2 linked regions of the Homo sapiens genome follow. The protein of the gene in region 2 purifies or fractionates together with the protein of the main gene of each other region. This does not show direct contact. Each region holds a gene or a part of one and is shown on either strand. Other genes may lie near its edges.

Region 1 (3,350 bases), on a different chromosome or scaffold from region 2:
ATCCAGGTGAGGGGGATATGAGCAGGGGCTGGGAGGAACATGGGCCCGGAGGGCTTCCACAGGTGTCTCTGCAGTCTGCTAGGACAGGGGTAGGGTGGCTAGTGTTCTGTGTATGGTGGGGCAGGGACTGGGGGAAGGGAGCTAGCCTGACTAGAGAACCCCTGGGCCCCTGCAAATGCAGCAGGAAGGATTCCAGGCTAAGCGGGCTCCCCTCCCACTCCCCCAGGTGACCACGGACCTGTACCAGGTTCTAGCTGCCAAGGGCTACCAGCTGGAGTGTCGAGGGGTGGTCAAGGTGAAGGGCAAGGGGGAGATGACCACCTACTTCCTCAATGGGGGCCCCAGCAGTTAACAGGGCCCAGCCACAAATTCAGCTGAAGGGACCAAGGTGGGCATTGAGTGGACTCTGTGCTCACTGGGTGGAGCTGTGGCAGGGGGCACTGAGCCTCCAGACCCTGCTAACCACAAAAGGGAACATCCCAGCAGGCTGTGCTTGGATCATGCTCGTCTGCCCTCAAGCTGGAAAACAAGGGGCTACCTACCGAGAGGATTATGCAAGTGACTTTCTTTCTTACTTGGGGTAGGGCTGTTCCCTCTCCAATCTTCCAGCCTTTGGGAGCAGGGGAGGGGTCAGTAGCAGAAGCAGAGGGAGGCCTCTTGCCTGAGGGATTAAAATGGCAGCTTGCCATGCCTACCCTTCCCTGTCTGTCTGGGCAGCAGGTTCAGGGCTGAGCCCTTCTTTTCCCTCTTTTTTCCTGGGAATATTTTGTACAATATTTTGTACAAAGACAGGCATGAGGAGTGCCTATTCCATGCTTGCCTTTGCAATACCTGCATCCCCAGCACTGGTCCTGGGCACTTCCCCACCCCAGCCAGGTGTCCCTCCTATGCACAGAGCAGAGGAGGGAGAAGCTCTGGGGAGCCAGCTTTGGCCATATTTCAGGAGAATGTTTCCATGTGCCAAATCTTAGTCCCATGATCTGTCCCCAAAGGGGAACAAAGGGACCTCTGACAGCTTAGATTTAGCCCCAGTTCCTGCACGCTCCAGGGAACGGGGTGTCTGGCCTCACTGGTACTGTGAAAAATGCTCAGAGAGCAAGCCTGTGTGTGGGGATGTCAGGTCAGGAGCTGGAAGTTCACCTGCAGGTGCCAAAGAGCAGGCCGGCCAGGGCTGGGGCAGTGCCAGACTCTGATCTGAGGACCCCGTCGGGGTCCAGATCAGGTCACTCTGCCCCAGTGCTCTCTTGCTGTCTGCTGACAAGGGGGCATGGAGCATCTCTTCCTCTTCTGTTGCCAAATAGAAAAGGGTCAGGGCATGGAGAAAGGTGACCCTGATCCCAAACCTGCCCTCCCAAGTCTCTGGTGTTGGGGAGGGCCCGTGTGTTTGTGTAACTGTGTGTGCATGTTGGTCTTTGTGTGCATATCTGTTTTCCAGGTCTATGTGAGTCCTTGTGCTCCTGCTCCTCAGCTCTCCACCCCAGGTTGCCTCTCTCCTGTGGGCCTCTGTCTTCTGGGAATAAAGCAGGGTTTCCTACTTCAGGGGATGTAGAGAGATGCCCAGGTTGCACAGGAGTGGGATGGGGTGTGGTAGCAAAAGGAGGGAGAGGAGTCCTTTTTGTGCCAAATCCCTAAGTGCCGTTCGGGGGCCATGTGTGCAGCATGACTCTCCCTGTCTGTGGCAGGGACCCAAGCGCTTGCTTAAGCCCCAGTGCTCCATGCCAGCACTTGAACTGTCTGGGGTTTGATGGACAGAGGCTGAGGAATTTCCTGGCTTCCCCAGATAGTGTCCTGGGACATGGTATGCTTTGGGGCTGGGGTAGCATGGAATCCCTCTGAGGACCTGGATACTGGTACTACGGGGTGGGGAAGAGGAACCTTAAACTTGGCTTTCCCCAGCCTTCAGCCTGAGTCTAGCATGTTTCTAGCTCCCCAGTCCCTTGTGAAGCCTTGAGGGCTGGCAGAAGGGTTAGGAGGTTGAACTCTAGATTCCCTTCCTGTCTTTGCCTTCCTTTTACCCCTTTCCCTGCAACCTCCTTGACTCTGGCCTGAATTTGTTGGTGCCTCAGTTTCTCTGTCTGTACCTATTTAAGCCAAAGGCACTAGCCTGAATTTTGCTTGAAGATCACTTTGTCTTGGAAATGACTAGAGAGGCAGAGGAGAAGGGTTTCCAGAGTTGCTAGGTTTGGGAGTGGAAGGGGCAGGCAGTGCACTTGCCCCTCCTCATGCCCCTTCTGACACCAGCTCCCTGTGGAGGCCTGGTTTCTGGGTAATGCCTCCCTTGGGCATCTTCATGCATCAACCAAATGGGCCATCAGGTACTTCATTAGTCATGGCAGAAGGAGGGGAAAAGACTTGTTTTCCAGACAGAAAATCTACTCCCCTGTCCCCAGCCATATCCCTGGATAGGAAGGGATAGGAAGAGACTACTTGGTGCCATGGGGTAGGGGTGAGGGTATAAGTAGATCAGAGTGGGAAGACCTCAGCCTTGGGTGGCTTGTCTCTGCTTCTTGCCAGGTGGGAGGGCCTGTCCACACCCTGGATCCCCGTACCACAGTGCCAGCCATGCCCTTCCCCTGGGCTACCATTGTCCCTTTCCTCACCCAGTTGGTAGAGGAGTCAGGAGGTGGGAGGCCGTGGGCTTTGGTTTTATAATGTAACCACTGTGGGGGTGGGGGAGGATGGTGAACCATGTATTTCAGTGAAATATTTAATATATTTAAATATCAATAAAATCAAACTCTTTGTAAAATTCTCTGTTCTCTGTAGCTGTTCTGGGCCCTGGGTGGGTCAGAAGTGACAGAGCCTGGTGTAGGAGGCGACCTCCTGCCCCAGGGCTCCGTGGGCCTCTTGTCTGTGGTCAGAGGACTTCCTGTGGCTTTCTCCCTGCTAAGGAGAAGCTGCAGTATCTTCAGAGTGTGACTACTCAAGGCCTTTCAGCATCATGAGCTCCAGTGTGTGCCTTCCCAGATTTGTGTGTGACCCCTGCCATGCATGAAGCCGGCGGTTCTTTCCAGTGCCTTGGCCCCTCACAGACCTCTCACTCCAAGGTCTGGCTTATTCAGGAATCTCCCACACAGCAGCTCTCACAACAATCTGGACACTGGAATCACTCCCATCCTGACCCCACAGCTCCCCCCGTGCACACAAGCAACTTTTAGTCCAGTCTGTTTACTGTGCTTTCTCCATCTCCTCCTCCCATTAGTCAGCCATCGGAACTGGGAAACCTCCTTCTTTCCCCCTCTGCACTCTTGCCACAATTCATCTTGTCTTTCTGCAGCCATATCTTCTTAATACAGACTGAAGGTCCTGTCATTGAGAATAGAGTGATCCATAAACCTGGAAAGAAGAGA
Region 2 (3,652 bases):
AAAATCCATATTGCAGAAGAAAAGAACAAGGCCATTTATAGAATAGACTAAGGGAAAAATGAACATGTGATCGCTGTTTTTTAAATCATCATATGTCTTACCGCACCACATTGGCAAGTAAATGTATTATTGTCTTTGAATTTAGATGGCCAAATTGAAATTGAACAATTTGTTACTAATATTTAGGTTGGAATTTTAATAGGTGCTTAACATTGGACACATCTGTTCCCATTACATTGTAAGGCATAGATGAAACTTTATACAAATAAGATTAAAGCATTGCCATAGCTAAAATATCAGGCATTAACCTTGTAGACTTTTGATTTTAAAATAGTTGAGCTCCAGTATTAAAATAGCCACAGTGATCAGAGTCCAGTTCAAATAATAGTGCTTAATGTGTTAATCATTAATCTTACATACTTCTTTCTCATTTCCCTCTATGCCTTTATAGAGTGGGAATTGCCTTATATCTTGAATTCATTACTGTAATTTGTGTACTGTGCATTGACTGAAGCCAATTTAAGTGGTAATGTAGGATAGAATTTTAGTTCCTTCACTTTGTGTAGATAGTGGGCCATGGAGTTAATGTTTCATTTATAGTATTTATTACAGAACTATGATAATGTGGTTATGATTCATGATCTTTTCCTGGATAATGGCTGATTTAAGACATATTATAGTTTGAAAACAATGTTGATGTTCTATAGTAACCATGACCACTGGTCCAAATATCCCAACATAAAAATACCATTGGCATAATTTTTCTTCCCTTAAAGAAAAACCATAATTACTCTTTTCAAACCAGAATTAGATATGCACAATCACCTAAACCAACTACTTTGTCTTGCAAATGAGGAATCCGAGATCCAGTGAAGCTGACTAGATTGATGGAGATCAGAAAGCTACTAGTGTTAGAGCTATAGCAGGGATGCAGAACCTGCTTCCTCTTATTTTGGGGCCAGTACTCTCAAAACTATCCTGCCTTGCTAAAATCGGATAATCACTGCCATTTCATTTATTCATATTCTGAAAACATTTGCTATTATCTCCCCATAACTCTTTTTTCTTTCTCCTCGCGCAGTGTCTCCATGCAACCCCACAAAGACATCCTAGTCTCCTGTGGCGAGGACCGACTCTGGAAGGTGTTGGGCCTTCCAAAATGCAATGTGCTTCTCACGGGATTTGGCCACACTGACTGGCTTTCAGACTGCTGCTTCCATCCCAGGTCAGTGCACAGGACCCCTAGAAATAGCCTAATCTCTCTAGGAATGTGCTCCTTTACTCTGTCTGCTCACTCTGCTGTCTTTGATGATGTTTTTCTTTCTGCAACAACACACCCTGCACTGAATTTCAAAGTGTATAGACAAATTCCCCTTTGGTTTTCAGTATATTGACTTCTGATTGTTTTTGATATTTGGTACATGTAAAACTTAGTCCACATGCTTATGCATTTAACCAAAGTAATAAGCTTCTCAGGACAAGCATTATTAAAATTCCTTGTGCTCACGAGCCCTGACAAGGCACAGAGATTTCTAGTCAATAATGCATGCCAGAATTTACCTTTGTTAATCTTTGGAGTTTTCCTTTTAGAATTAATTTATGTACCAAAAAGGATCAGATAGCTGCGATCAATTTCTCTAAAAATTCAGTGACACACAAGATATTAAAAAGAACAAAGCAATACTGAGAACACTGGGCCCTGTAATTTCTGAAATTCACTGAACCTAAATTCATTTGTACCTAAAAGACCAAGGGCACAGAAGGGAGATCATTCTTAAAGACACAGATGGAAAACTGCCCATAGTTCCTTGTGGCCCATTGCTACTGCCAATCCTGTTTTCTGCTCATCATACTTCTTGGATCTGCTTCGTTCTAAAACTCTCTGGCCTGATTACTTTTTTAACCCATAGTTCTTGGTGCTTTTCTAAACCATTCTTTTGGAAATTTTGTTCTTGGGAAGATTTCTTATGATTTATTTTCATGTTTTCACTAAACTCCTTTTTTAAATCAGTTTTTATTTTATCTTTGCTATGAATGTCTATGAAATTAGATAAAAAAATTTTATTTAAATTTAGAAATTTGTAAGTTAATGACAAGGGTAAACTAAGTTTGTTTTTAACTTTTGAAAATCTTTCCAAAATATAATTTATCTTTAGTACTAGATGTTTGACCCTACTTTATGAACATGCAGTGTATTCCGTATCCAGTATATAAATTAAACAGAGCCTTGCCACCCTCTCACCTCTTAGGAACATAAAACCCATGTTGCAAGCAGAGACAATACAATTAGAAGAATAGCCAATCGCTTATGTAGCTACTGGGCATACTAATCAGATTTTGATAATGCCCTGTTACCATGACAGCCAGTGACTCAGAGATTTTCTCATTAGTGTTTGACCAGCAATGGTCCTTTTAATAGATCTTCCTGTTTTCCCATTCAATTACTGAAATTAATATGAGGTGAGATACATCATTATTCACTCATAATATGAATTTACATTTAGCACTTTCTTACGGCAGAATTGTAGTAAAATACTGCTATACTGTTTGCTTTTTTTCAGTGCATGAGACAAATATAAGGGGAGAAAATAAATATAACCATAAGTGTTTTTAAATGAGAGATATTGAATAGCAAATGTTCTTTTTGTAGAATTAATAAAAAAGAAAAAATGATCATTAGAAACAACAACAAAAAAAGCTCTATTTTGGTTTATTTGTGGTGAAACACATTCTGAAAGAGTTTATATCTCAGACCACAAACATTTTATAATCCTTGTATGCAAACCAACACTAAATAGCAAATGAATATGAAAAAATATATATGTACCTACAGATAGTGTTGATAGATTAAAAGTTGTTGGAATTTATGTTTCCTGGAATTTAAATTTGTAATATTTGACTTTTGCTTTGGCTTATGTGATTTGGTAAGAAAAGATAGTTAATTAATGAAGATAATATATTTCCTATCTCATGGTATACTTCATCTATAATTTAAAATCAAACCTAAAATAAGTTTGATTTAAATATGATACTCTAATCTGTAGTTGATTTTTTAATGAATACAGTTATAGTCTTCAGAGTCCAGCTCTGGGCTCTGGTTGATTCTGCTTTCTTGGGAGAGGCCTAGGGTGGACACAGTATATACTAACATTTACTGTCCTCCTATGCTCTTCACACAAGACACATATACTTTTTCTTATTTTTTTCTTTCCTTTGCTTTTAACATTTCCTTTATTTTTAATTTCAGTTGCTTCTAGTTGAATATTTTCTCTAACTGTTAGCTGGATGTATTCCTGACTACAATGGTAGCTGACACTGTCAGGCACTCTATCTTCTGCAATGATGACATATCCAAATTTTGTTTGGGGGTCAATTATTCTTGACATGATTGTGGTTTACCTTGACTGACCCCAATCAATCTTCTTTGTCCTATTTCTCGTATCATAGCAGACATCTCAAGTGCCTAAATAATAAATACAATAGACATAGTAATACTCATATCAGACAAAAGAAGATTAATAGGTAAAAAAATAAACTGAGGGGATAACTAACACTTGAGAATCCAGCTAATATGATGTCGAAATATATAAAACAAAAAATCTCGTAAAACAAGATGATAGTAAAAAAATGTAATAATCAGAATCAAAGACTT

What was found.
Region 1: the proteins of SPAG16 (region 2) and ADCY6 purify together in Homo sapiens (affinity purification with mass spectrometry; one large-scale study listed by BioGRID and IntAct). This does not show direct contact.

What each region holds. Positions count from the first base shown.
Region 1 is NC_000012.12:48,765,593-48,768,942, reverse strand, and holds the end of ADCY6 (adenylate cyclase type 6), read left to right. Parts: coding exon 1-6; intron 7-226; coding exon 227-352; 3' UTR 353-2,749; downstream 2,750-3,350. Other genes in the region: SPMIP11 (sperm microtubule inner protein 11), read right to left, coding at 3,288-3,336. UniProt on the Homo sapiens protein: Catalyzes the formation of the signaling molecule cAMP downstream of G protein-coupled receptors. Functions in signaling cascades downstream of beta-adrenergic receptors in the heart and in vascular smooth muscle cells.
Region 2 is NC_000002.12:213,861,404-213,865,055, forward strand, and holds part of SPAG16 (sperm-associated antigen 16 protein), read left to right. Parts: intron 1-1,081; coding exon 1,082-1,225; intron 1,226-3,652. UniProt on the Homo sapiens protein: Necessary for sperm flagellar function. Plays a role in motile ciliogenesis. May help to recruit STK36 to the cilium or apical surface of the cell to initiate subsequent steps of construction of the central pair apparatus of motile cilia.